Linked DNA regions of Homo sapiens: regions 2 and 3 are each linked to region 1. Evidence: fine-mapped expression QTL. A gene starts in region 1. Each other region holds a variant in brackets. All regions are shown on one strand. Distances are between the middles of the regions.

Region 1 (10,208 bases):
TAGTTATTTATTATGCAGGTATTCTGAATAATTTTGACATGTGAAAAAAAGTAAAAATAGCAGATTGTAAAATACTGTACTCTCATTTTTGTATTCTAAACTTTTAGGCACATAATTGCATTTGTGTAAACACACAGAAAAGTCTTAGAAAAGTCAAGAAAAGGTTAATAGTGGTTATCTTGCCTTCTAATGGTGGTGGGGTAGAGTAGCATGGTTAAGACTGAAAGTTTTCTAAAAGGTTGTCAAAGATAATTTTAGAAGAAAACAGTGGGAATTCAGATAATTATCGGTTTCTACAGGGGAAGTGCAAAAAGAATACAGATAGACATTGGGAAAAGAAACGGACAGAAAGTTTTAAAACTCTGAAATATTCTTTAGTATCAGTCTTTTATGAGTTGAGACATTTTAGGCTTTTGCTTGGTTATAAATACAGGAAATAATTTACTTCAAATTAACAATTAAGTTTTTATTTTGTAACTAAAAAAAAAATTTCCAGAAGGGTTTGATTTTCTAAAATTTAAGTCATTCAGTAATTACTTACTTGCTGTTTGCTCCTACTCCAGCCACAAACCGTTTCCGAGGATACCTGTCTTTAAGTTGTTTTAAAGTCATTCTGTTCTGGGCTACAACCCAGACATCACCACCTTTTCCACCTTCTCCACCTAAACGAGGATAACCCATTCCACCGGATCCTCCCCTGGTGAAGAGTCTTAGCTTATCGATGAAATTTCCATACTTAAAAAAAAAAGAGAAAGAATATTTGTATACCAAAAGTGTATCACCTTAGAACCTTTTTCTAGTTCTTTCTTCCACTAAAACTTCTTCTAAAAAAGTCGTTAATAGCTTTTCACATGCCAATTCTATAACATTTTCTTAGCTCACCTCCACATCTCCGATCTGACCCCCTTTCCCATTTGATTATCTCTCTTAAGTCCCTTTTAGTTTTTTCAGTTATCAATTATTGTCCCACCTATCCTGAGGGTTTCTGACTTGGCCCTGTTTTCATTCTAGACTTTCTCCCCTGGGTAATTTCTGCTTGTACCAATAACCATCACCTAGGTGAGATATTTTCTATGTCCAATCTGTCAGACATTTCCACCAGGATGAAAGCTTTTAATAGTATAAAGCAAATGTGAGCAGAATGTGTATTTAACTTATATTTGAAATTCCCCAATATGAAACTTGTTCTTACATATCAGTTGAATAATAGCCACCTCAAAAATAAATGTTAACATAACAAAACCAAACTCTTCCCCAGGTAAAATCTGTTCCTCCAATGTTCTCTAAAGTAACAGAACCATGGTTTACATATTCATTGAGACTACACAAATGGAAGTCTTTCAGACTACACCTGCTTCTTTTCCCAAAGCCCTACTCTCTTCTCTCCAGTACCACTGCCCTAGTACCTGCACCACATGAGCTCCTTTCAGTGTTTAGGCATTTTTTCCTTATTGCATTCTCCAACTTGTTGCCTGAACTATTTTTCTGAAATTGATCTGATCTCTAATCATGTTTCTCCTTTACTCAAAAACCATGCATTAAAAAAATGCTTATGAGCCAAGTGCAGTGGCTCATGCCTGTAATCCCAGCACTCTGGGAGGCCAAGGTGGGCGGATCACGAGTTCAGGAGATCGAGACCATCCTGGCTAACATGGAGAAACCCTGTCTCTACTAAAAATACAAAAAAACTAGCCAGGCGTGGTGGCGGGCGCCTGTAGTCCCAGCTACTCTGCAGGCTGAGGCAGGAGAATGGCATGAACCTGGGAGGCAGAGCTTGCAGTGGGCCGAGATCAAGCCACTGCACTCTAGCCTGGGCGACAGAGCGAGACTCCGTCTCAAAAAAAAAAATGCTTATGAAATAAAGTAAAAAATTCTTAGTACTACAGTTGACCCTTGAACAACACTGGTTTGAGCTGCGTGTGTCCACTTATATACAGATATTTTTCAATAAATATATTAGAAAAATTTTTTGAGCTTTGCAACAATTTGAAAAAACTTACAAAGCAAATAGATTGGAAATATTGAAAAAATTAAGAAAAGCTGTGTGTTATGAGTGCAAAAAATATATAGATGCTAATCTATTTTGTCATTTACTTCCATAAAATATACACATATCTATCTTAATTTTTAAAAACTAGAGATGGGGTTTTGCTATGTTGCCCAGGCTGGTCTCAAACTCCTGGCCACAAACAATCCTCTTGCCTTGGCCTCCCAAAGTGCTGGAATTACAGGCATGAGCTACTGCACCTGGCCACACATCTATTATAAAAACTTAAAATTTATCAAAACTTACACACACACTTACAGATCTTACATGGCAGCATTTGCAGTCAAGAGAAATGTAAGCAAATGTAAAAATGCAGTATTAAATCATAACTGCATAAAATTAACTGTAGTACATCGTGGAATACTGTAATAATTTCGTAGTTACCTCCTGTAACTATCCCGGGATCTCAAGTGTCCCAAGTTGCCACTTAAAAGGCCATGTGATGCTAATCGTCTCCCCATGAGCAGTTCATCTTGCCAGTACATTTTATAAGTCAGTAAAAAGTAATCTCTCACAGTTCTCTTGCATTTTTCATCATGTTCAGCGCTACACTGTAAACCTTGAACACCACCATGGAACCCATACAAAGTGCCACTAGTGATGCTGGCAGTGCTCCCAAGAAGTAAAGTCATGACACTACGATAAAAAGATGAATTGCTTGATATCTACCACAGATTAAAATCTGTAGCTGCGATGGCCTGCTATCTCAAGATAAATGAATCCAGAATAAGAATCAGTGTAAAAAAAGACAAAAATTCATGAAGCCACTGCAGCAGCTATGCCAAAAGGTGTGAAAACCTTGCACTTTTTGTGAATTAACTTTTTATCTTGTATTAAAAAGGCAACTTTTATGTAGATGCAGGATTCCTATTTTAAAAACATAGACTAATACAATAAAAGAAAAAGTAAGGTTACCATATGACAACTTAAAAGCAAAAGGAATGTGAAGGATCTAAAGCTAAAGAATTAATTGCCAGCAAAGGATGATTTGATAATTTTAGAAGGAGGTTTGACTGTGGAAGACAGTTCTAGATTCCTCAAGAATCTAGAACTAGAAATACCATTTGACCCAGCCATCCCATTACTGGATATATACCCAAAGGATTAAAAATCATGCCACTATAAAGACACATGCACACGTATGTTTATTGTGGCACTATTCACAACAGCAAAGACTTGGAACCAACCCAAATGTCCATCAATGATAGACTGGATTAAGAAAATGTGGCACATATACACGATGGAATACTATGCAGCCATAAAAAGGATGAGTGACATGGATGCAGCTGGAAACCATCATTCTGACCAAACTATCACAAGGACAGAAAACCAAACACCACATGTTCTCACTCATAGGTGGGAACTGAACAATGAGAACACTTGGGACACGGGGGGAACATCACACACTGGGACCTGTCATGGGGTTGGGGGCTGGGTGAGAGATAACATTAGGAGAAATACCCAATGTAAATGACAAGTTAATGGGTGCAGCAAACCAACATGGCACATGTATACCTATGTAACAAACCTGCACGCTGTGTACATGTACCCTAGAACTTAAAGTATAATTTAAAAAAAAAAAAGAAGAAATAGGTTTGGCTTTGGCTTTAGAAATATCAAGATAACAGGTGAAGCAGGTTCTGCCAACTAAGAGGCAGCAGATGAGTTCCCAGATGCCATTAAGAAAATCACTGAGACGAAAGAATATCTCCCAAATCAGGTTGTTAATGCTGATGAAAGTACCCTATTCTGGAAAACATGCTACAAAAGACATTAGTAAGGAAGAGAAGGGAGCACCAGGATTTAAGCCAGGAAGGGATAGGCTAACCCTACTGTATTGTGCAAATGCAGTTGTGTTTGTAATCAGGACTGTCCTTATCTATAAAGCTGCTAACCCCTCAATCTTGAAAGGGAAAGATAAACATCAGCTGCCAGTCTTTGTTGGATAAGAAGGCCTAGAGAACAAAAACCTTTTCTCTGGATTGGTTCCATGGATGCTTTCTCCCTGAAGTCAGGAAGTACCTTCCCAATACGAGACTGACTTGTAAAGTTCCTCTGCTAATGGACAGTGCCCCACCTCCCCGCTACCCAGAACCCCATGAGTTCAACATCAAAGGCACTGAAGTGGTGTCCTTGCCCCCAAACACAATGTCTGTAAATCAGCCTCTAGATCACGGGGTCGCAAGGACCTTTAAGGCTCATTAAACATGATTTTCTACGAAAAGGATTGTCAACCATGGAAAAGAACACTAATAGAGAAAACTTCAGGAAAATCTGAAGTTTACATAATTGAAGATGCCATTATTATTGAAAAAGCCATGAAAGCCATAAGCCCCAAACAGTAAGTTCGTGCTGGAGAAAACTTTGTCCAGGTGTTGTGTTGTGTTATAATTTCACAGGATTTACAAAAGAGCCAATCAAGGAAATCATGAAAGAGGCTGTGAATATGCCAAAAACGGCGGGAAAGTGGGTAAAGGACTTCAAGATATGGATCTTGAAGAAACTCAAGAGCTAACAGCCACCAAACCAGAGGAATTAACAGAAGACAGCTTGATGAGTGCTTCAGATCCAGTGCCAGATAACAAGGAAGAAAACACAGAATAAACTACCAGAAAAACGAACATTAGATAATCTGGCAGAAGAGCTCCTATTGTTCAGGACTGCTTTTGACTTCTTTTATGACATGGACCCTTCTGTGAAGAGGCACTGAAACCAAAGCAAATGGTGGAAGAGGTATTGGTACCCTATAGAAACATTTTTTTGGGGGAAAGAGAAAAGCAAAAGCATGACAGAAATTATGATGTACTTCCATAAAGTTACACATAGTGTGTCTGCCTCTCTTGCCTCCCCTTCCACCTCCTCCACCCCCACCCCTTCTGCCTCTGCCACCCAAGAGAGCAAGACCAACTCCTCCTCTTCCTCCTCAGTCTATTCAACATGAAGACTATAAGGATGAAGACCTTTACAATTCACTTCCATTTAATGAACAGTAAATATATTTTCCCTTCTTTCTGACTTTCTTAGTAACTGTTTCTTTTCTCTAGCTTAATTTAAGAATACAGTATATACTATATATATATTTTATATGTGTCAACTGACGGCTTATGTTATCAGTGAGGCTTCCAGCCAACAGATTATTAGTAGTTGTTTTGTGGGGGGAGTTGAAAGTTACATGAAGATTTTCAGCTGTGGCGGGGGCATCTCTAACCCCCATGTTCTTGAAGGGTCAACTGTATATCCAAAGCTACTAAAATACCCTTCTGGTATCTTTTATTTTCTTTTTTTTGAAACAGGGTCTGGTTCTGGTGCCTGGGCTCGAGTGCCGTGGCACTATCATAGCACTATCATTGCTGCAGCCTCAAACTCCTGGGCTCAAGCAATTCTCCCACTTCAGCCTCCCAAATGGCTGGGACTACAGGCACCACACCACCCCGACTGTTTTAAAGATGGGGTCTTGCTATGTTGCCCAGACTGGTCTTGAACTCCTGGCCTTAAGGGATCCTCCCACCTCAGCCTCCCAAGTAGCAAGAACAATAGGCTCACCTACCATGCCTAGTTCCTTCCTGTATCCTTTTCACTTGCTCAACCCTTCCTCTCTTCCTCTTTGCTCTGTACTACATGAAATACCGCCATTTCTACATGCCATTCTGCTCATGCTTTTCCTCTACTTAGAATGTCATTTGTTTTTCCTATCATAAATCCACCTAAACGTCATATTTTCTAACGTCTTTCCAAATTCCTCTAATCAATTCTCTGACTTTGCTGGCTCTCCCAGCAATTTGATTATATCTCTATTATTACACCTTTATAAATCTCACGCTGCATTTAGTGTTTACCTGTTTCCTTCACTAAATCAAGAACTTCTTGTAGGTAAAGGACTTACGTATTAACCTCTTAGGCTATTAAAATCAAAATAACTTAAGGAGTAATTTCTTAAATTCATAATCCACATCTCTAGTCATTTAGGATAGCTATTATAAAAAACAAATGGGATTTTTTTTTCAAGAAAGTTGAAATATTGACCATTCTGATATACTCGAGGAGAGTTTCTACAGTTCCATTAAATATGTAACACTTTTTTCCTGCTCTAGATTAATCAGATTCAGGGGTTTAGGAGCCTTACTTAAAAGGAGTATTTTACTCTGGTCGTTAGAAATAAAGTAATGGCCAAATATGACGCAGGCAACGTTTCAAAAAGCATTACTGATAGGATAAGATTTAAAAAATAAAAATTCAAAGCAGTTGTAAATTTTTACGGAAACGATTCTTAAGACCGACACCACACAAAAATCGACCTAAATGTTCTGCAGGAAGGCACATCAATTACACGCTTTCGTGTCTTCATAAAAATCCATTAGAAAAACCTTAAACAGCGCACTCAAGGAGAAATATATAAAAACAGGCTGTGGACATTAAAGGAAAAAAAACCACCACAACATTTGGGCCACAGCAGGCAGGTATCCCAGTTCCTCATACCACGTGCACACTATGTCTCTAAAGAACTTCAAACCCTGCCCCTGCCCCCAAACAACCGTCCAAACCACGCCAGGTACACACACCACTGTCACCGCTTACTGACAAAGCGCCACTACAGGAGGGGCGGAGAAGTCTATGGGAAAACCAAGCAAGGAAAAGGCCGCCACGAAGACAGTAGTGGAGAGACAGGGGAGCAAAGAAGAACCAGAGCTGTCAGCGCTAAGGGGACCAGGCTGAGGGGACCCGCACGGACCTTTCTGAACAACACGCAACTGCAATGCACCATGGCTGCAACAGGCCAGGAAACCTTCTTGCGGAAGCGGCACAAGCCGCAGTACAGCGCGGCCTTTTTACGTCATCCCCTGCCGCCGACGCGATTTCTCCTCCGCCCACACCTGCGGACTGGCGCATGCGTTGTGTGATGCTCTCGGGCGCCACCAGCCCCATGCGCTGTGCTTTGCACCCCACGGGTGGGGAGAGAAGGCGTTTTATCTATTAAAACACAGAGATAATCTCGAGAAGCCGTGGGACAAAGGACAGTAGGGCGTAGGTTGCGTGTCTCAGGAATTAACATTTTGAATGGAATGGAACTGAAGACTCAGCAGCCTTGGAGCAGCTTTTATGCTAATTGAGGAAACTAAGAATCTTCACCCTCAGCGTGAAAAAACCTCCAACGGACCATAAAACCAAACGTGTAAAAGACACAGAAACTCAACTGGGAAAAAAGAACCCCCAAAAGCCGTTAGTTCAGTGACGAGCTGAGTAGTCTCCAGCCAAAGCTTCCAGGAGACCATGAATTTAAAACTAGCGGCCGCACAAAGTTTTATTGAAAATAATGTCAGGATCTGAGATCTGTAAGAGGACTCTCCTGTGCAGTAAGAGAAAGAAGCTTGTTTACAACTGTCAGAAAGTAGCTTCTTGGAGTCGGGAAGACGGGTTTTTATCCGTCATTTGAAGCGTGCCTTTGTGAGAATTAAGACACGATGTGAAAAATCCCTCTCTCTCTTGATTACTTTTCAGGACCAGAAGAGAGTAGCTCTCCCCAACCCCTCATGCAGCGAAAAAATGTATGCAGCTGAAGTAAACGGCCCTGCACAGCGTTGCCAGCCGTATAACTCTTAACAACCCAAACTAATAAATCCTAGAAACCTTTCATACTTTGATACGATATGGCTCTGTGTCGCCACCCAAATCTCATCTTCATTTGTAATCCCCATTGTGGAAGTAGGGAAGTGATTGGATCATGCAGGGCTGTTTCTCTCCTGCCGCTCTCCTGATAGGGAGTTCCCACAAGAGCTGACGGTTTTATAAGTGTTTGGAAGTTCCTCCTTCTTTCTTCTCTCTCCTGCTTGCCATGTGAAGAAGGTGCTTGTTTCCGCTTCCCCTTTTGCCATGATTATAAGTTTTCTAAGGCCTCCCCAGCCATGTAGAACTGTGAATCAATTAAGCCTCTTTCCTTTATAAATTACCCAGTCTGCGCAGTTCTTTATGGCACTGTGAAAACTGACTAATACCTCAATGTGACAGTGTCTTCTACTCCTCACTTAGGACAGTGATTATTTGGAAAGACATGATGTGAAAACCCCGTCTTGATTACTTTGCTGCTACTGGACCTTCTGCTTACAACCACCAATCAGAAAAGCTGTAGTTGTCATTTAACCTGCAGTAGTTGTATTTTCCCTCTGTGGATTACTTTAATGTTGAATATTAACACCAGCAACAGATGTTGATTACTATCAGTGTTCCTACCTCTCATTAATATGAACATTAGGTTGTTGCTGTGTAGATGTTTTTAATTTAATGACATTTGCTGCCATTAAGATTACTATCTTACTAGGTTTTCCTATTGTGTCAGAATAGTGTTGAGCCCAATGTACTTATTTTCCAATGCCTATTTCTTGTTAGTGAACACAATCTCAAATACTTTTCTTTCACATAACATATACATGGGGAAATGATCACAGCAACTAAAAAAAAAAAAATGGGAGATTGATATAGAAATATCTCAAAATGATGAGGATCATTGTGTACTGTAAACAAAAAAGAAAGCATAATATTTACCTCTGACAAAATGTGGTCAGGGCCTGAAGTATTTATTATAACTCTCATTACCAGATAGTAAAAGAAACATTGTGTAACTGGAAACTGTCCCCTTTAAAATGTGCAGCTAAAATGAACATGAGGCAAAATGTTTAGGACACTATTCAGACCTAAGGCAGAAGTCATTGTTGGAAAATACTACTACTTCTGCCATGAAGAGGAAAGAATGCCTCCTTAGGGTTGCTCAGTTTGATGTATGGGCAAACCATTAAAGTCAGTGGCACTAAAGAGTCTTGAATAAAGTCCCAAATAAGCCATCGACATGACTCACAATTTGGTTTTAAAAATATTTTAAAACAGGCCAGGCGCAGTGGCTCACGCCTGTAATCCCAGCATTTTGGGAGGCCGAGGCGGGTGGATCACGAGGTCAGGAGATGGAGACCATCCTGGCTAACACGGTGAAACCTCGTCTCTACTAAAAATACAAAAAATTAGCCGGGCGTGATAGTGGGCGCCTGTAGTCCCAGCTACTCAGGAGGCTGAGGCAGGAGAATGGCGTGAACCTGGGAGGCGGAGCTTGCAGTGAGCCGAGATAGCGCCACTACACTTCAGCCTGGGCGACAGAGAGAGACTCTGTCTCAAAAAAAAAAAAAAAAAAAACAAAACAAAACCATATATATACACACATACATATATACATACATATACATATATACATATATACATATATACACATATATACATATATATGCATATATACACATATATACATATATACATATATACACATATATACATATATACATATATACACATATATACATATATACATATATACACACACACACACAATAATGAGGGTTATGAAAAAATTTAATATAGAGTTGTTCTAATTACAATTTTAAATAATTTTATTTTGAAGTACTTTTTAATTTACAGAAGTTACAAAAATAGCCAAAAGAGATTCCATGTAATCTTTATCCAGTTTGCCCGAATGTTAACATCTTTTATAACCATTTTTCAAAACTAAAAAAATTAATATTGCTAGAATATTAACTAAACTACAGACTATTTGCTTTCACTGGTTTTTCACCTATGACTTTACTCCAGGGTCTAATACTAACACCACATTGCATTTAATCTAACATTTAATGTAGATACACTTAAGCATAAAATAGACAAATATATAATTAACAAATCTAATATTTTGTGATGTTATATTGCTTAATTTTGTCAGCAGACTAAAATGAAAAGTGTCTAACTTCATTCTGGGCTTTGCAGATTATTTCAATTGATCTTGTGTCATCATCTCAACTGCTTTTAATTAGATTTCTACCTTTTGTCTATCATGCTTTTAGTTCTGCTTGTTCAAGAGTCCCTAACAAGGTCCGTCTGGCTCAGGCCTTGTAATCAGTAGATACTCTAGGAATATTTGTTAATTTATTCAAACGAAAGACAAGAACTAGATTGCTAACTCCTATAGCATACGAATCACCTGAAGTGGAGCATCGAGTTATTCTTACTCATTAGCCTTATAATCCTTCAGATGTAACAAATCAAATATTATTTGTTTCATGCCGTCAAAATATTACAAGTCTGAGAACCATTATATCTCCCAAATGATGAAGTTAAATGGATCAAACAA
Region 2 (10,208 bases), 28 kb after region 1:
GGATGTTTTGGGATGAAACTTTTTCACTTCAGATCATCAGGCGTTAGATTCTCATAAGGAGCAGCAACCTATATCCCTTGCATGTGCAGTTCACACTAAGGTTCACGCTCCTATGAGAATAATGCTGCTGCTGATCTGACAGGAGGCAAAGCTCAGGTGATAATGCTTGCTGGCCCACAGCTCACCTTCTGCTGTACGGCTGGGTCCTTAACAGACCACAGACTGGTACCAATCTACGGCCTGGGCCCCCCTGTGTTAAACTACCCGTGCATCCCTAGGATAATCCAAGCTTGATACTGCTGGGTTTTTTCTAAGTCCTACTGAATTTGGTATGTCAATATTTTGTTTAGAATTTATTTTTATCTGTAATCATTAGTAAGATGGCCTGTGACTTTACTCTTTTTCAGATCGTCCTTGTCTCATTTTGTTAGAATGAGTCTGGGAGATTTCCTTCTTTTCTAATTTTCAGGAAGTACTTGATCCTTGAAAGTTGCCCTGCAAAATCATATGGGCTTGATTTTTTTTTTCCCAGTGGGAAGATTTTAAACTACTTATTCAAGGTCTTTAAACAGCATTTACTATTCTGGCTTTGTAGTTATTCTTACATGACTGTTATAGATTTTTTTCTTTTTTCTTTTTATTTTCCATAGTCTTTCTTTGTCGCCCAGGCTAGAGTGCAGTGGTGCGATCTCGGCTCACTGCAGCCTCCGTCTCCTGGTTTCCACCGATTCTCCTGCCGCAGCCTTCTGGGCAGTTGGGATTACAGGCACGCGCCACCATGCCTGGCTAATTTTTGTATTTTTAGTAGAGATGGGTTTTCGCCATGTTCACCAGGCTGGTCTCGAACTTTGGACCTCAGGTGATCCACCTGCCTCAGCCTCCCAAAGTGCTAGGATTATAGGCGTGAGCCACTGCGCCTGGCCAAGTTTTATAGATATTTTTTCTAGGAATTTATTAATTTAATTTAAAATTTCAAATATATGGTATATGTTGGTTGTTAGTATTCGTGTATCTAGTTTTAATCTTTATTTGCTATCTATAGATATATATCATTTTCTACCTTTCATTTTCTTTCTTGATCAGCCTCATCAGAGGTTGCTTTATTTTATTCAAAGAATCAACTCTTTTTGCCTTAGTTCACTAATGTGTGTTTTTGTAAAATCTCTTAACTTTTGAGAGCCTTTTTTCTGCTATTTTACCAGCTGTTAAATTTGGTTGCATTTATCACTCTATCAGATTTTCAGCCTCTCTTCTTTTGGCACAAGTGTTTAAAGCTGTTAATTTCCTTTAAAGGATCCTCTTACTGGCTTCTCACAAGTTTTGATATGCAATGTTTTTTAATCACACAGTTTGAAATATTTTATAATTTCCATTGTATTTTATTTTAAAATCGATTGTTTAAAGTTATTGCATAAATAAGTACATTTATTGTTTAAATTTCAAAACATGAAAAACTACGTTCTTGTTTTTATATTTCTTAAAACACTTTTTAGACTTTTAAACTTTCTGTGTTGTGGTCAGGCAACGAAGTTTGAGTGATACTAGTTTTTGAAATTTGTTGAGACTTGCTTTAAATTTCATGAGACTTTATTTTTTCTTTTATTTTATTATTATTATACTTTAAGTTTTAGGGTACATGTGCACAACATGCAGGTTTGTTACATATGTATACATGTGCCATGTTGGTGTGCTGCACCCGAGACTTGCTTTATTTTCTAATGGGAGGAATGTGTTCTTTAACTGCAAGTTTCATGGTTCCTTATAACTTGACGGTTCAAATCATCTACACATTTAGTATTATTTATCATCTTAACCTAAAGGCTTGTGGAACTCTCCCACTATGATAGTGAGTTTGTGAAAATTTCCCTCTACTTCTGTCAGTTTTTGTTTTATGTATTCTGTAGCTTCGTTATTAGGTATATCTAAATTTAGAATATTTTTATCTTCTTCCTGAATTGAGTCTTTTATCATTATGTAGTGTTCCCCTTTCTCCTTCATCGTGCTTTTTTGTATTAATAAAGCTGTCAGTTTAAAATACAATTAACATGTGCATGGTATATTTGTTTCCATTCTTTTCAAGTTTCTCTGTCCTCATTTTGGGTGTGTGTATCTTTTGTAAAAGCACATAGCAGAATTTAAAATCCAACCACATCTTCCTTCCTTTAATCAAGAAGTTCAGACTATTATTATGATTGTTGACTTGAATCTTATAAATTTACTTTCTACTTGTCACTTTTGCTGTGCTTTTTTCTCTCTTCTTGCTTTCTCAATTAATTTTTTATTTGTCAATCTGTTTTTCTCCCTGGTTCAAGAGTTTTGTTCTCTATTTCCGTCATTTAGGAATTGCCTGAGAAATTTTACCATACATATTTAACAACTTTGCAAAGTCTAAATTCAATATCTATATCTCACTTTTTACTGTAGATACCAGTTTTAATAAAGCCTAAACTTACTATCTACATCTCACTTTCCTCTCTTCCTTCTCTCTTTCTCTTCTTTCTTCTTTTCCATATTCTGATTCTTTATGCTTTGCCTCCATCCGCCTTTTCCCTGGAGATTTCACTTTCTTGATCACCCAATGATGATTTAAAAATTATGTTTGTCATCATTTTGCCAGATTCTATTTGAATGTAGCAAGTAGACCCTTCAGAAAAATCACTCACATAAAGAATATCTTCTCTCACTGACTTGGGGGTAGACACCAAGAGTAAAATTTCTAGATCACTTTCAGATTAAACAGATAATGCCAGTTTTCTTCCTTGGTGATTATACCAGCTGATAGTCTCATCAAAAGCATATGAAGTGTTCATTTTCTCAAAAAATTGCTGAGATTGTATTTTACCAAATTAATTTTTGTTAAGCTTCATTTGGGGAAGACAATATATCATTTCCTTGAAATGGCTTTGTTATTAAGTCTATCTAAATTTAGAATATTTCAGTATTTTTTCTCATGTTTACTGAATATTAAGGTCTACTCTTCTGTCAATTACCCTTATTTTTCTATTATTGATTTATATAAGTTCTCTATTCAGAATACCATTCCTGTGTGTGTGTTATAATAATCATACCCAAATATGTACTCCTATTTAGTACATTACTCTAATTCTAATATTAGAATATTCTTTAAAAATGCATTTTAATGACAACTATTACCTGTCTCCTTACATTTTTCTGTATTTTACAACTTTTCAATAGGTTTTGAATACTTGTAAACAGATAAAAATGTTTTATGAAAAATAAAGTATATCTTTCAAAAAAGACGGACAGGAACTATGTGGTTACTCAACAGAGAAATTGAGCCAATTCATTTTAGAAGGAAGCCAACATTAACCCAAAGATGGAAGGGGTTGCTTCCTTTGGGGGTGGGGACATGTGCCCAAGGTTAAGTCACATTGGAAAACAGCTTTGGTGGGTGGACAAATTCCTTGGGAGGGTGGTTTGTTCACGTTTCAGCTGGGATGTTGGATTAGGTCACTCTGCATCTCTGCTAATTGTGAGAGTCCATGATTAATGGTGGACTGAAACACTTGGAAGTCTACAGCAGAAGAATATCTGGTGTGAGATGGATTCGTGTATATCCTACCTAATCCGAGTAAACAAGTCTTCCCCTTTTCTCAGTTCTGTTTTGTGCAGGAGGTGGTCCTGCAGATAGAAGGGGCATAAAAAGGCATTGCCAGGGCAGAACTAATGATTGACTACGTTAGCTCCACCAACAGGATGAGAACAGGGTGGAGCTTTGAATAATGGTGGGTGCTGGGAGAAGTGAGCTTTAGCAGGGACAATGACTGGGGAACTGGGCTGTTTGGTTTGGCACTCATCTCACCCCATGATCTCACCATCCCAGCTCAAGAACCTGTGAGAAGGGTGGCCTGCCTGAGGGGAAATGGGGATAAGGCAGCTGGCTTTGATTTCCCTAGCCCCATCTGATCATCGCTGCTGGGCTATAGGCAGAGCAGGTAGACTTAAACTCATATATAGTCCAAGTGATGTGTTGGGGCTGAGATTGATGGACAACATACATATGTGAAATTCAAGGTACTTGCTCGGGTCTTCATCCATGAAGGGATAAAGGAAACATTTCCCCCAGTGTAGAAGCAAGGGTATGTTTGCGCGTGTGTATGTGTTAGCGTTAATAATAAACTGTGTTTAGCTA[G/T]AGATTAGAACCGTTCAAGGAGGTTTAGCATTTTAAGAGAGTTCACAGCCTTAAGAGAATTTTTCTCTGGATAGGAGAATACGGTGTGGAGCATGGGTGGGCGGAGGGAGAAGATAACTTGGGTATGTGGACTGACTAATGCCGAGATGGATCTTCTCAGCTAAGAAAAAAGAAGGAACAAAGTAAGAAGGAGAGAGCGAAGAAGACCCTGAGCCTTTGGCATAGCAAGAAAGTCGGAGGAGGGCAGGAGAGGCGAGAGCAGCGGCCAAAGCAGGGCCGCAGGGCGCAGAGGCCCCCGAGGTCTGGAGGCTGGGAAGTTGGGCGAGGTCAGGGAGGGGCCTCGAGAGCGCGGCCACCCACGATCTGCCCCCTCACTCAGCCTCTAGAAAAGGATCGCGGTCCCAGCGGCGGGTCTGTCTCGGGAACCCCGCGTGGCCGCAGCAGAACCGGCAGCTCCACCCGCGGTGAGCCAGTGCCAGCCAGAGCCTCCCAGCGCCGAAGCGCACCGCGGCCGAGACGGTTCCGCTGAGCGAGCTTGGGCGCCCGGTGAGCGCTCGGGGTGGGTGACACAGCGCTGCCTCGCCCAGTTCGCCTGCCTCGGGAAGTGGGTCCGCTGGGCAGAGGGCGCCCTGGGCAGGGGTCGTCCCCGCTGAAACCTCTGGTTCCTCGTGGGCAGGAGGCGCCCCGTCCTCCTCCCAACGAGCGTAGCGCACCCAGGACACCGCGCCGGGACGCGCTCCTCGGACGGCGACCAGAGGTCCTCGACTCCCGCGTGGCCTCCCTCTTCTGCGCCCAGGTGACCTGACCCAGGGCTGGGGGCACAGGGAGAGGCGCTAGCCTGAAATTGAGGGGGAAGAAATTCCCTCTGATACATCATGTATCATAAACTGCCAGCTTTCAGCTCAGTCTGGGGAATTTGCACAATTTTCGACGATGTGAAATGACTTGAATGTCCTGTTTAGATTTGATTCGTATGATTTCTCTCTTCAGCCCAACTTTTTTAGGGAGGTGGCAGACGGCTGTGTACGGGGGGAAAGGTGAGTCCTGTGTTCTGGATCTGTTCTCCTCTCCCTATCCCTCCCCGTTGGCTGTCAATGTTGTAAAAGGGACATTTCCAACAGCAGCCTTGAATAGCAGGTGTGTGGCAATTCAATGCCAACTTAGTCTTTAACTTCCTCTTATGTGCTTTGGGCCGATTTTACCCAACAATCAGTTGGCAAGGAGGCATGCAAAGAGGCATTAGAAAAATGTCAAGATTTTGCTGAATGTAATGGGCCCTGCACTATCTCATCCTACCTTATATCACCTTTGTTTTCGTGCCACTTCATGTATGTCTACGTTCATCTTCTCCAACCAGCTCCTAAACAGAGGGAAGCCAAGAATACACCGGATATTAGTGCGTAACAAGTATTTTTCAATACATGAAAATGGAAATAGCAGTAACTTTGAGACTTAAACGGTGTTTGTGAGATCTAGTACCATTTGGGTTAATAATATCTCAATTAACAACAACAAAATACTTCCTATGTTACATGTAGAAAGGACTGTATTTTGATCCACTTAGTTGAAATGTGTTGTGGTAGGTAGGAGTCTTGGATAGGCAGTCAGGAGTCTGAAGACTTGCGGAACCGTATCACTAATGATCTAATCAGTAAAGGGAGAAGGTTGGAGCATAAGCTCTTTAGGGTTTCTGCCACTTTTAAAGGTCTGTGATGAAATGAACCTTTGCATTTTCATAAATGTGTTGCATTTCAAAGACTCTTGATCAGAACGTTGGAAATCAAACCGGAACTGTAATATCCTAAAGGAAGATGTGATAATCAGTAATTTAGAAAAAATGAATACCTAGTAAGCAGATTTGGCTTGATCAAAAGCAAATATATGTGTACTTACAGTTTTTTAGATCAAGTGATTGAATAACTTTTTTAAGTTAAATATATCCTCTCTCATTTTTTTTTCTGTATAGAATATGTGTTTTGCTACAAGAAGATGGTTCTATCTACATTTGGGCTGCATGATGCTGATCAATCTGGTTAATGCTGACTTTGAGTTTCAAAAAGGAGTGCTTGCCAGCATCAGCCCAGGAATCACCAAAGACATTGATCTCCAGTGCTGGAAAGCTTGCTCTTTGACATTGATAGATCTCAAGGAACTCAAGATAGAGCACAATGTGGATGCTTTTTGGAATTTCATGTTGTTCTTGCAAAAATCTCAGCGGCCTGGACATTATAATGTCTTCTTAAACATAGCTCAGGATTTCTGGGACATGTATGTAGACTGCTTGCTTTCAAGATCTCATGGAATGGGCAGAAGACAGGTGATGCCCCCCAAATATAATTTTCCACAGAAAATAACAGGAGGTAATTTAAATGTGTATTTAAGAGAATAGCAGTTTACTTTTCTTTAAAAGTCACTATTTAATTCTTCTGATTTTTTTCAAGTTATCCAACAAGGTAGCAAATTTACCATATTTAGTTTTTTTCCCTAAAATGATAGGTTTTGATTCTCATTTTTACTCATTTTACATTATTTACAAACCACACAAGCTCTGACTTACAATTTTAAATGATCTTGGAATATAATACACTTTGGTAGATAATTAAAATTATCCTTGTTTGCCCATGAATAGTTCATAAGAAAGCCATTTAACCCTGTAATTATTCATATTACATTTGTTGAAGAAATTTTAAACATCAGACATGTATTTAGGCTTTTGAAATTAATTTTTTCAATAGGGTTGTATAAAAGCAGGAAATTTAAGAGTCATATTGGAATGAATATTAACAATTTCTTCTTTTAAATCTTACAGGACTAGATTTTACAAAATGAGAGTATTACATTTAAGAGAAAACATGTAAAATACCTCAAGCAAGATGACAGCGACCTGAAAACTTGTATTTATGAGGTCAAATATTTCTTGTCATAGTTATACAAATTATTTAATACTGATAAACGTTGTTTTTTGTTGTAATTGCTTTATTGCTATTGAATTATTCCAATATTTTCAGATAATTTCTCAATTTTTTACTTAGAAGGTGTCTTTTTAAAGTGTCTTTGTTTTAAAGAAAACATCAGTTAAAAGGCAAATGTGATATATTTTTTAGATACAATAGTCAATGGAATAAAATTGTAACCAATTTTATAAGGTATCTTATATATTAATATTGACTATTAAACTGTGCCAAAACTAATGGCAGTATTATCCTAAAAAGTAATATTTAATGTAGTATATTTTGTGGTTTCTGAAATGTACATTTCATTACCAAGCCATCTTCTATATTAAAGTATTTTTCTATGCATTAAGGACTAAAACCTTTTTATGTTCTCATTTTTATTGTCTTTGTTTTGAAAAAGGAACAATAAACAAAGACAGAAACTTCATTTCAGTAAAGTACAATTTGATAGAATTTTTGTGTTAGCTGAGTTATTTTTTATATTGCCTATTTATATCTCACATCTTATTTCAAAAAGGATGTGAAGCTTTAAAGAAATATACCGAAGAAAAGGAAAACATGAAGTAGTGGAGGAAATTGGAACATTGGGACATGAAGACAGGGAAGTAATACAATGGAGTTACGGTTTAGATTAATACTTTTTGAATGCATGTCGTAAAAGCCTATACCTTTGATAAAGGGTGCCTATAAATTTGGTCTGTTTCCCACTTCTCCTAGTGAAGAGGGACACATGAACAGTTTCAAGATTCACATGCTTATAAGAAAAACCAAACCATATGTTCAACAGAGGTCCAGCCTTTTCCAGGACAAAGAATCAATGAAAATCTCACCCATAGGTTTTCACAGTGGCTACCATGGTTTACAACACTGGTTTCAAGTATCCTTACAATGACAGATTCTCTCCTTTACAGTCTGATTCCAGTACACTCAAACTCAAATATAAAAAGTTTTAAAATCGGCTAAAATAATACTGAACAAGTAACGAACTGCCTGATGGTTTGACTTGATCCAAGAATAAGCTGAATTAAAGGAGGGACGTTCTTTGCATTATTGACCACTTTCAAATTCTGATGATGTATAGACCATTTATTAGGGGTTTTATATATAAACACTCTTAAAATTACATTTTGCATGTAATTTCAGGGGGCTGCATAAACCCCAGGTTAGGAATTTTCAATATTAAAGGACCTCATAGCGTTCGGCAATATTATTTCATATAACCAATTTTGCATGAGTAGCAGATAATATAAGATTGTAGGGCTAATAATTTCCTAGATTGAAAACTTCTTATCTTGCCAATTAAGGGTGGATCCCTAAGCTCAGAAAATCAACTGGTTGGAGGGTAGGGCTAATTAATGTTCTCATAAAAATGACCAGACAGCGTGTAAACATGAGTGATTTTATGTCCATTAAGCTTTTGATTTGTGGAATTTATATGACAAATAATTAGTCTGATATGAGTTTTTAAATTTCAACATATTTTCATATTGACACTTTATTACTGTTTAGCTCTAATCGAAAAGTGATGATTCATTTGAGAGGAGTCACATTTATGTGACAGGAGTAAAAAGTTGAGTTAATCTTGCCAAGAACTTTCCTGTCCTTTCTCATCTCCATATTGAACATCTGTGTTCTTTATCATTAAACTGCTTTTGGTCTAAAAAAAAAAAAATGACCTGACAGCTATCCACCTAGAATTCATTTCCTGCAGAGGAGCCGAAGTGGTACCTAGAGGCAGTATTACAGTTTTCCTCAAAAAAAACAGTTCTCTTTTACAGTCTGTGGGCAAATGATTGAAGCTCAAAAGTTCAATGCTGTAAAGTGAGACCATGTACTTTTAGTCTAAAAAATTGTTCAACCAGTTGTCCTCAATCACTCATAGTTGTCATGACAATTTTATTGCAGCGATGATAAACATTTTAGCTTAAATCAATAAAATTAGTCTTCCAGTTAATGGCAAAATGGTTTTCTAGTTCTTTTAATTGAATTTACATACTACATTGGGTTAAAAATAAGAACATTTGCTAAACTGGGCAATCTGGTTTTAAAACAACTCATCTTAAGCTTTTTGATGATGATTACATACCGTAAATTCCTCCCCGTTTTTGGCACAAATAGTGTCATCTGCATATAAAAAAACTTTTTCTTTCTGTTCATCATTCATTCATTCAACAAATATTCATTAAGCTTTAGGGTATATTAGTGAACAATCCAGACGTAATCTTTGACTCACAGAGTTGACACTGAAGTGGGACAATGCAGGGATAGACTGAAAGATCTAATTCAAAAGCAATTTTATGATATCAAAATAGAAGATAAAAAAGAAGGTGGTCAAAATGAAGCTGAATTGGGACAATATGTATTTCTCTTTTGTCCTATTCAAAATCATTTGACAGTCTAGAGATCATTTTAAAAAACAAACCACCAATTCTTGCAGTGGTACCATGGTAAAGATTCAGTTTCACAGCTTTGGGTTTATGCTGAGCTCATTTGGCTTAGCTCATAACCGATTATTTTTCAGAGAGCTTAAGGCTGAGGAGAAAAAAGGTGGCAAAGGATCTAATATTGACCCCACAAATATTTCTTCATAAGATGATACAAGGGATAATAATTATCTATGTCTAAAGTTCCTCTGCTGTTTCTATCGAATCTTTATTTTTTCTTTTTTTGAGACGGAGTTTCGCTCTTGTTGCTCAGGCTGGAGTGCAATGGCGTGATCTTGGCTCACTGCAGCCTCCGCCTCCCGGGTTCAAGTGACTCTCCTGCCTCAGCCTCCCAAGTAGGTGGGATTATAGGCACCTGCCACCATGCCCAGCTAATTTTTTGTAGTTTTAGTAGAGACAGGGTTTCACCAGGTTCACCAGTCTGGTCTCAAACTCCTGACCTCAGATGATCCACCTGCCTCTGCCTCCCAAAGTGCTGGGATTACAGGCGTAAGCCACCAAGCCTGGCCAGAATCTTTTTTAAACTTTAAATAAACTTTTAATTTTGTTTATTTTTTAAACTTTTGTTTTAGGTTCAGGGGTACACATACAGGTTTGTTCTATAGGTAAACTCATTTCACGGGGGTTTGTTGTACAGATTATTTTGTCACCCCGGTA
Region 3 (10,208 bases), 210 kb after region 1:
AGTCTGTGGCTTTTCTTTGCATTATTTTGACAATGTCATTTGCAAAGCAAATTCTTAATTTTTAATGAATTCTAATTTACCAATTTTTTTCCTTGAAAGTATTGTTTTGGTGTTAATATGAGAATTTTTGCCTAATTTAGGGATGTAATAATTTTCTCCTATATTTTCCTTTAAAAGTTTACAGTTTTACATTTTATACTTAGCTCTATGATTCATTTTGAGTTAATTTTGTTAAAAAGACTATCCTTTCTCCACTGACTTACCTTTTGTATGTTTTTAGAAATTCAGTTGACCATATTTATATAGGTCTATTTCTGGGCTTTATTTTATTTGATTGACTTAGGTGTTCAACCTTTTGCCAATATCACGCTTGATTACACTAACTTGAAATAAAGTGGTATGAGTTTTCCAACTTTGCTCTTTTTCAAATTTCTTTTGCTATTCTCGTTCTTTTGCTTTACCCTATATACTTTAGAATCAGCTTGCCAATATATATAAATAATTTTGTGGAGATTTTGATTATAATTGCATTGAACCTATAGATAAATTTGGGGAGAATTGACATCTTATGAATATCCCATAAACACAGTATATCTTCCCATTTATTTGGCCTTTCTTTGGGATTTTTTTTTAAATCAGGGTTTATAACATATAGATCCTGCTGATATTACATTTACTCTTAATATTTTATTTTATGGCACTATTATAAATGGCATAATGTAAAATTTCAATATAAATTATTTATTGGTAGTATATAGAAATACATTTGTTTTGTTTTTTTTGTTTTTTTTTTTTTTTGAGATAAGAGTCTTGTTCTGTTGCCCAGGCTGGAGTGCAGTGGCATGATCTTGGCTCACTGCAACCTTTGCCTCCTGGGTTCAAGTGATTCTCGTGCCTCAGCCTCCCGAGTATCTGGGATTACAGGTGTGTGCCAGCACACCTGGCTAAGTTTTTCTATTTTTAGTAGAGATGGGGTTTCACAATGTTAGCCTGACTGGTCTCGAACTCCTGACCTCAAGTGATCTGCCTGCCTCAGCCTCTCAAAGTGATGGGATTATAGGTGTGAACCACCATGCCTGGCCAAAATTAATTTTTATATATTGATCTTTTTAGTCAATTATGATTATGAGCTCTAGAGCTTTCTTAGAGATTCCTTGGAATTTTCTACATAATGCCTTTTATTTCTTTTTCTGGCCTTATTGCACTGGCTAGGCCTTCCAGAACAATGTTGTAAAAAAGTGGTAAGAGCAAAAGTCTTTCTCTTGTTTCCTATTTTAGGGGAAAGCAGTCTTTTCCCATTAAGTGTGAAATCAACTATACAGTTTTTTCTACATGCGCTTTATCAGTTTTAAAAAAATTTCCTTCCATTATTAGTTTGCTGAGAATTTGTATCATGAATAGATATTGAAAATTTCAAATGCGTTTTCTGTATCTATTGAAGCAATCATGGTTTTCCTTCTTAACCTATTAATATAGTTAATTATACTGATTGACTTTCAAATGTTGAACCAGCCTTACATTCCCAAGACAAATCCTGCTTAGTCATGTTACATTATCCTTTGTAAATATTGCTGGAATAGATTCACTAAAATTTTGTTCAGAATTATTTCACCTATGTTCATAAGGGATATTGGTCTGGTTTTAATGCTGGTCTAATTCTAGCCTAATAAAATGGGTTGTGAAGTATTTCCTTCTTTTCTATTTCTGAGAAAAGATTATATAGATTTGTTACTTCTTCCTTAAATGTTTGGGAGAATAACTCAGTAAAACCATCTGGACGTGGAGTTTTCTTTTTTGAAGTATTTTAACTACAAATTCAATTTCTGTAATAGATATGAGACAAATCAAGTTATCTAATTTCTTCACCAAGCTTTGGTAGTTTGTATGTTTCAAGGAATTAGTCCATTTAATTCCTGATTTAACCCTGATTTAAACACAAATTTGTGGTAATACAGTCATTTGTTTTTCTGTAGTGATATCCACTCTTCCATTCCTGATATTGATAGCTTTTGTCTTCTCTCTCTCTCTCCTTCTTGCTTAGTATAGCTAGAGATTTATGCATTTTATTGATATTTCATTGGCTTTGTCTACTGTTTTTCTGCTTTCATTTTCATTGACTTTTGTTTTTATTTTTGTTAATTCATTTTCTCTGCTTGCTTTGGGTTTAGTTTGTTCTTTTTATCTTTGTTTGTTTTTTTTTTGTTGTTTGTTTGTTTTATGGAGTTTCATTCTTAGCCTCTAAGCTGGAGTGCAATAGCACAATCTTGGCTCACTGCAATCTCCGCCTCCCGGGTTCAATAGATTCTTCTGCCTCAGCCTCCCGAGTAGCTGGGATTACAGGTGCCTGCCATCACACCCAGCTAATTTTTTGTATTTTTAGTAGAGAAGGGGTTTCACCATGTTGGCCTGGCTGGTCTCAAACTCCTGACCTCAGGTGATCCACCCGCCTCGGCCTCCCAAAGTTCTGGGATTACAGGGGTGAACCACCCTGCTCAGCTGTTTGTTCTTTTTTTCTAATGTCTCACTGTGGAAGCTTAAGTTATTGATTTGAGACTTTCTTTTCTAATATGAGCATTTAGTACTATAATTTTCTTCTCTCTAAGCACTTCCACAATTTTTTATAAATTGTATTTTTATTATTAATTATTTTAAAATATTTTATTATTTCCCTTGAAACTTACTTGACCAATGGGTTATTTAGAACTGTGTTGTTTAACACAGTTACACTGCGTTGTTTAACTTCCAAATGTTTAGGTATTTTCTAGATATCCTTGATTTTTTATTTTTTTCTTTAACCATGTATGGTCATACATATTATTGTCAACATATTTGGTATGATTTCAATTATTTTAAAATTGTTAAGGTTTATTTAATGGTTCAGAATGTGTCCTTTATAGGTACTTGAAAAGAATGAGTTTTGCTGTTTTGGAGTGGGTTGGCACCTGTTAGTGGTTTTTCCCTTGACTATTGGTCACATTTTCCTGGTTCTTTGTATGTTAAGTAGTTTCAGATTGTATTTTAGACAATCTGATATTATGTTGTGAGACTCTGAGTCCTGTTAAAATCCTCTAGAGAATATTGATTTTCCATAATGACCACCCTGATATGCAGTTCCACACAACTGGAGAGACAAAGAGAACGAAAACAAAAATTTTCCCCCATCCACTTGGGATGATAGGGAACTCTTTTGAAGATCCTCTGACCAGAGAGACAGTGGTTTGTTTGTTTGCTTTCTCAGTGTTTTAGGTGCACATGCCACAACTGCTGCAGAGAAGCTCTAGACTGTGGCCACTCCTCGCTTAGAGATAGGAGGAAAAAAGAGGGGAAAAACAGAAAAAAAAAAAGCCTTGGAATATATTCTACACTTTTCAGCTTACAGAGGTCTCTGTATCTGTTTGGTTCAACAAAGGAGATTTCTCTGAGTTTTGATGTCTGCTCCTACTGCTCAGTTCCATAATTAGGGCCATTTTCATTTCAAAGCAGTGAGATACAAAAGCAAAAATAACTCAGGATTCTCATCCTAATACTGGTTTTTCTTCAAATTTTGACTTTCAAACTATCTTCTGGTGTTTACTTTTCAGAGTCCTTAAATAGTTACTTTCTGTATTCATTTTTAGCTGTAATCTGTGAGAGAGACAGACTATAGAGGGCTGACTTTATCTTGGCCGGCAATGGCGGTCTCAGTAATATTTAACATCTAATAATTATTGAATTCCATGTACAACTCGCATCTCCTATCCTACCCTCTTTAGGAGGGCTTTTAAGAATGCTGGATAGTGGGAATTTTAGAGACATTGTGGGCTGACTTCTGTTTTCACTGGGAGAGGTGGGAACAGCTTTGTTAGGTAAGCATTTTCTGGCATCTACTTGGGACTCATTTGCATATTGGTAGCTTCAACCTCACACAAATCATATTGATCCGGTATCCCATTTTTATGTTCACACTCTGGAAACATGTACTAGTACTGCCACCTATATCTGCAATACTTAGTGTAATTGCTGGTTTATATGTCTGTCTCCTCCTTGAGGTTCCTTAAGGACAGAGAATGTTCTCTGCCTTCTGAGTTCCTAGCACAAATTCTGGCACATAGAAGGAACATAATAATTTTTTTTAAATTTGTGAACTTGCTTAAAATTGAATTTCATATTCTTGGAATGAGGGATAACATTTTTCTCGTCTTAAACAAGTATGATAAAAATACCCCACATATCTCTGAGAACCATCTTGTAATTGCAGCCTTCTCATGCCTGAGAAAGGTAAACACTACACACAAGAGTATCATGGAGTGGCCACACTGTGTCTTCTCTGCTTCAGAGATAGGTAAATCAAGGCACGGGAAAGTCAGGTGTCTTTGTATTCAACCTCAGATTATTAAGCACCTCAAAGAAACTGAAATGGAGAATCTGTGTCAACTCTTTCTTAGAATGGCAGTTCTGATCTCAATTTCCTTCAACTGCATAATAGAATACACAACTCAGTATCTATTTACACATCACTGCTTTTTCTTTTTGCATTAAGACATCATTTTAGAATAGGTTTTCTGACTTCCTCCGTGTCTCTGACTGCATTAACTACCAAAAGCGTGGCTGAGCCACACTTCGCTGACATCATTGTGCTCCCACCTCAAATCATTTTCATCCTATTGTGAAGCAAAAGCCTTAAAAATGCTCTTTAGTTTTTTTTATTTTTATTTTTAAAGGACATTTACATCCAGCCATTTTATGAGTGCAGTCAAGGCAATTTCATGTTATTTTCCAAGACTTTTACACACTTGGAGAGCCTGGCAAAATGCATTCGAGATGTTTGAGCAAGAGGTCCCATCAGTTATTCACCTGCATGTTTTAAATTGGGTGCCTGCCCTGACCGGCTGAACACTCCATTCATCGAATTGCCTGGAACAGCTCCATGGCCTTCAGGAGCCTCATGCACATCTCACACTGTTGCAAAATTGCCTTCAGACAGGATTCTGATTTCCGTCAGAGAATTTTAAATTCCAGCTAATGGAATGCTTTGAAGGCATGTGCCACAGACTTCTGCCCAGTGCAAGTCCTGTGTGTGAGCAAATCTAGCAGGGACTCCAGAGCCTGGACAGCAGAAAGCTGCACTTCCTCAAGAGGACGCAGGATCCTCTCACTTTCCCAGTTATCCTACAGCTGACTAGTCAGCTGAGGGATTCACCTGGTGTCTGTATCTCCCCACTAGCTTCTTACTGTGGGAAGAGAAAGAATAGGATCCTGCTGGGAGCCAGGAGTCCCTGGGTTTAATTAATGGCCTTTTGGCTTTCTTCCCTTCCCCTCTCCACCGTGTGCACTGGTGGACACTGGTCCCCATCCCTGAGGTTCAGTCCTGCCCTGGATTCCAGGTCTACGCCAAGCCGAGAAGGTTTTGGATGAGAAGAGCTGAGTAATTTGCTTCGTCAACAATTTTTGAAACAATGCTTGAGATAACCTTTGGAATCTGGGTTCTTCAACTACATGGTTTCTGTCTTACTTTTCTCTTGCAGGAGGGTCAGTGCTTTCATTCCCAGCCAGCTATTCCTTGTTCTTCATGTCCTCTACCACCTAGTCCCAAATATACAATGAGAACTCCTGGATCTCTTAGTTTCTAGGTGTCCAGTTCTACTTGCCCTTAAATTAATGACTTCCATCCAGGGCACAGTGGTTTTGTTTGATTGTATCAATGGATTAGACAGGCCCAAATCTAATTAAAAGCTTTGCCCCTGTCTAGTTGGAGGGCCTTAAGAAAGGCACTTGACATCTCTGAGACCCAATTTTCTCATCTGCAGAACAGTTTTACTAAGATGTCCTAAAGATTAAATTATATAATATATAAAGAGTCTAGCAAAGAGTAAGCCTGTAAATGATGGCTATTATTATTATTTTTACTAGTATTTGACTATCCATTAGTCCATGGATAAATGAGTCTATCTTTGGCTCAACTCTCACATTCAGATATATTCTATGCTTTCACCTGAA[G/C]TTGGGGATCCTCCATGGATTACTGGTCCTACCTCAATTATTTTTCCTGCTTGTTCTCTGCCTTATTTGTCCTTCTGCTTCCTGAGCCCCTAATTTATTCATGTGAAAAAGCAAAATTGCACAATGTAAATTCTATGAGAACAGCTTCACTCTAAGGTAAATTATAATGTCTTGTCTTATTCATGAAATGACTGAATGTTGATGGTCATGTATATCATCTACTAAAATGATAGAATGAATCCTTTAGACACTCTAGAAATAGTTTGTTCTATTTTTCTCTACTTGACTGATGATCTGTTGGGATCAGAACAGATATTCACAATATTAAAACTATAGTAAATGGTTTTGTGGTTGTAACCAATGACAAATAATTTTTTCTCTCTGAATCTGACATCCTCCACATCTACTCTCTGGGATGGAAATGTCTTTAGTGATACTGCCAAAAGAAGCATCAGAGAGAGATTAGATAGATATGACCTTTCCATGAATTTTAAGAGGAAGACTCTGATATGGTTTGACTTTGTGTCCCCACTGAAATCTCATCTTGCATTGTAATCCTCAGGTGCCAAGGGAAGAACCTGGTGGGAGGTGATTGGATCTTGGGGGTGGTTCCCCCATGCTATTCTCATGATAGTTGTCACAAGAGCTGATGGTTTTAAAGTGTGGTACTTCCTGATGCTCGCTCTCGCTCTCTTGCTTTCTGTCTCTCTCTCTCTCTCTCTCTTGCAGTCTCTCTCTCTCTCTCTGTTGCCTGCCGCATGTAAGATGTGCCTTGCTTCCCCTTCACCTTCTACCATGATTGTAAGTTTCCTGAGGCCTCCCCAGCCATGCAGAACTATGAGTCAATTAAACCTCCTTTCTTTATAAATACTCAGTCTCTGGTGGTATTCTTCATAGCAGTGTGAAAACGGACTAATACAGAGAATTGGTACCAAGGTAGTGTGGTACTGCTATAAAGATAACTTGAGAATGTGGAAGCAACTTTGGAACTGGATAACAGGCAGAGGTTGGAACAGTTTGGAAGGCTCAGATGAAGACAAGAGGATAAATGAAAGTTTGGAACTTCCTAGAGACTTGTTGAATTGTTTTGACCAAAATGCTAATAGTGATATAGACAATGAAGTCCAGGCTGAGATGGTCTCAGATGTAAATGAGGAACCTATTGGGAGCTGGAGTAAAGGTCACTCTTACTATGCTTTAGCAAAGAGACTGGCAGCATTTTTCACCTGCTCCGGAGATCTGTGGAACTTTGAACTTAAGAGAGATGATTTAGGGTATCTGGCAGAAGAAATTTCTAAGCAGCAAAGCATTCAAGAGGTAATCTGGTTGATTCTGAAAGCGTTCAGTTACATGCGCTCACAAAGAGATGGTTTGAAATTGGAACTTATATTTAAAAGGGAAGCAGAGCATAAAGATTTGGAAAATGTACAGCCTGACTATGTGGTAGAAATTTTTCTGGGAAGAAATTCAAGCCAGCTGCAGAAATTTGCATAAGTAACAAGGAGCCAAATGTTAATCACCAAGACAATGGGGGAAATGTCTCCAGGGCCTTTCAGAGATCTTCAAAGTAGCCCCTCCCATCACAGGCCCAAAGGCCTAAGAGGGAAAATGTCCTCAGGGCCCTGGGCCCTGCTGCTCTGTGCAGCCTTGGGACATGGTGTCCTGCATCCCAGCCACTCCAGCTCCAGCTGTGGCTAAGAGGGGCCAAGGTACAGCTCAGACCATTGCTTCAGAGAATGCAAGCCCCAAAACCTTGGCAGCTTCCACATGATGTTTGGCCTGTGAGTATTCAGAATACAAGAGTTGAGCTTTCAGAACCTCCATCTGGATTTCAGAGAATGTGTGGAAAAGCCTGGATGTCCAGGCAGAAGTCTGCAAGAGGGGTGGAGCCCTTATTGAGAACCTCTGTTAGGCAGTGCAGAAGGGAAATGTGGGGTTGGAGTGCCCATACAGAGTCTCCACTGAGGTACTGCCTTGTGGAGCTGTGAGAAAAGGGCTACCATCCTCCAGACCCCAGAAAGGTAGATCCACCAACAGCTTGCACCTTGCACCTGAAAAAGCCACAGACATTCATTGCCATCCCATGAAAGCAGCTGGAGGGGCTGTACCCTGCTAAGCCACAGGGGTGGAGCTGCCCAAGGCCATGGGAACCCACGCCTTGCATCAGCATGCCCTGGGTGTGAGACATGGAGTCAAAGGAGATCATTTTGGAGCTTTAAGATTTAATGACTGCCCGGCTGGGTTTTAGATTTTCATGTGGCCTGTGGGCCCTTTGTTTTGGCCAATTTCTCCTATTTGGATGGGAATACTTACCCAATGCCTGTATTGCTACTGTATCTTTTTTTTTTCTTTTGGAGATGGAGTCTCCCTCTGTCACCCAGGCTGGAGTGCACTGGTGCGATCTCGGTTCACTGCAACCTCTAACTCCCACATTCAAGCAGTTCTCCTGCCTCAGCCTCCTAAGTAGCTGGGACTATAAGCGCCAGCCACCACACCCAGCTAATTTTTGTATCTTTAGTAGAGATGGGGTTTCACCATGTTGGGTAGGCTAGTCTTGAACTCCTGACCTCAGGTGATCCACCTGCCTTAGCCTCCCAAAGTGCTGGGATTACAGGTGTGAGCCACTGCACCTGGCCCCCTATTGTATCTTGGAAGTAACTAACTTGCTTTTTATTTTACAGACTCATAGGTAGAAGGAACTTGCCTTGTCTTAGATGAGACTCTGGACTTGGACTTTCAGGTTGATACTGGAATGAGTTAAGACTTTAAGACTGTTGGGAAGGAATGGTTGGTTTTGAAACTTGAAAGGGACATGAAATTTTGGAGGGGCCAGGGGTGAAATAATATGGTTTGTCTCTGTGTCCCCACCAAAATCTCATTTCAAATTGTAATCCTCAGGTGTCAAGGGAGGAACCTGGTGGGAAGTGATTGGATCATGGAGGTGGTTTCCCCCATGCTGTTCTCACGATAGTGAGTGAGTTCTCATGAGAGCTGATGGTTTTAAAGTGTGGCACTTCCTGGTTTGTTCTCTCTCTCTCTCTCTCTCTCTCTGTCTCACCTGCTGCTATGTAAGATGTGCCTTGTCTTCCACCATAATTGTGAATTTCCTGAGGCCCCCCCCAGCCATGCAGAACTGTGAGTCAATTAAACCTCCTTTCTTTATAAATTACCCAGTCTCTGGTGGTATTCTTTATATCAGTGTGAAAACAGACTAATACAGACTCCTTCCCTGGACACTAGAACCATGATGGCATTAGGGATGGAGTTATTAATGCATAATAGCAGAAAGCTCTTTACCTCAACATTATAAAGATAATAAAGGTATAGTTAACAATGATTGTACACACATTGTAGATTCCATTACAGTATTAAATTGAGCAATAGTGTTTGCAGCAAACTATGGGCATTTTTCTTTAATTTCCCCTCCCATTAAATTATTCTTTAATTTCTCCTCCCATTAAAGGAGAGGGTGGTCTCTTTTCAGGTAAGGATTGCTCATCTCTTTCTTCTTCATGCCTCATGCCGTGCATGCCCCATGCAGGTGTAAGCTAGATGGCATTCTGTATGTCAGGACCATTTTTCATTACTGCAAAATACTCTAAGTTTTAAAGAAAAGAATTTCTATCCTATGCATTGCTATAAGGCTTTTTATTCCAACATATGGTATTAAATAGGAGTTATGTGCTCAATTGTGAATTTATATGAAAAGGAGGTTAGGATACAACAGGCATAGAGGAAACATCATGTGAAGACACAGGGAGAAAACGCTTATCTGCAAATCAAGAGGAAAGATCCCAGAAGAAACTAACCCTGCTGATAGATACCTTGATCTCCGACACCTGTCTGTGGTACTTGGTGATGGCGCCCTAGCAAACTAATATAATTGTGATGAAACACAGAGGCCCAAGAGTGGCCTTTGTGTTTCATTTCAGTGCTCTATGTTCTGGCCAATTGTCTGTCACCTTCCTTTGTGCGTGAATGAGTCCCCTGTGGGCAAAAGCAGAGGCCACCCGTGGGGGCATACCTAGATGGGCGGCAGGCAGACAACCACTATCTGTCATCTACCCAACCACCACTTATGTCCTTTTCCCTCCATATCCCTCCTCTTTCACCATCCCTCCCCTCCTACTCACCTTCTTCAGGTAGCAGGAGTGGGAGGTAGGAAAAAGCAACAGACTTATTAATGTTAAAGATCCAAGCTGCAAACCTTTGCCTCTGCTTAGCTTTTTGGT

Which allele goes with the higher level. Positions count from the first base shown, and alleles are read on the strand shown. Sizes are in standard deviations (SD) of each study's normalised expression. Not every link is listed here.
As copies of C replace G in region 3, the expression in spleen of the gene that starts at base 6,835 in region 1 goes up (moderate effect, 0.61 SD a copy in GTEx).

The links. PIP is the estimated chance that this variant, and not a neighbour inherited with it, causes the effect.
Region 2: its variant is the best candidate, but not a certain one, in a credible set for the expression of GTPBP10 in left ventricle (GTEx, PIP 0.75).
Region 3: its variant is the best candidate, but not a certain one, in a credible set for the expression of GTPBP10 in spleen (GTEx, PIP 0.73).

What each region holds. Positions count from the first base shown.
Region 1 is chr7:90,343,343-90,353,550 of GRCh38, reverse strand. It overlaps GTPBP10 (GTP binding protein 10), which reads right to left and starts at 6,835. Exons shown (of 10, transcript NM_033107.4): 1 at 6,777-6,835; 2 at 542-735. The coding sequence starts at 6,809. The region is part of intron 1 of LOC107986715 (a long non-coding RNA gene); the gene reads left to right. It overlaps LOC101927446 (a long non-coding RNA gene), which reads right to left. Exons shown (of 6, transcript NR_110085.1): 6 at 9,457-10,208. RefSeq lists enhancers at 6,590-7,019, 7,230-7,369.
Region 2 is chr7:90,315,663-90,325,870 of GRCh38, reverse strand. It overlaps FAM237B (family with sequence similarity 237 member B), which reads left to right and starts at 4,567. Exons shown (of 3, transcript NM_001384237.2): 1 at 4,567-4,949; 2 at 5,144-5,190; 3 at 6,120-9,064. The coding sequence starts at 6,123. The coding sequence ends at 6,542. It also overlaps a transcript of CFAP69 not described here. The variant G/T (reference allele first, on the strand shown) is at 4,154.
Region 3 is chr7:90,133,736-90,143,943 of GRCh38, reverse strand. All of the region lies in intron 2 of STEAP2-AS1 (STEAP2 antisense RNA 1), which reads left to right. Among named protein-coding and RNA genes, the nearest start is that of STEAP1, 16 kb to the left of the region's middle. The variant G/C (reference allele first, on the strand shown) is at 5,977.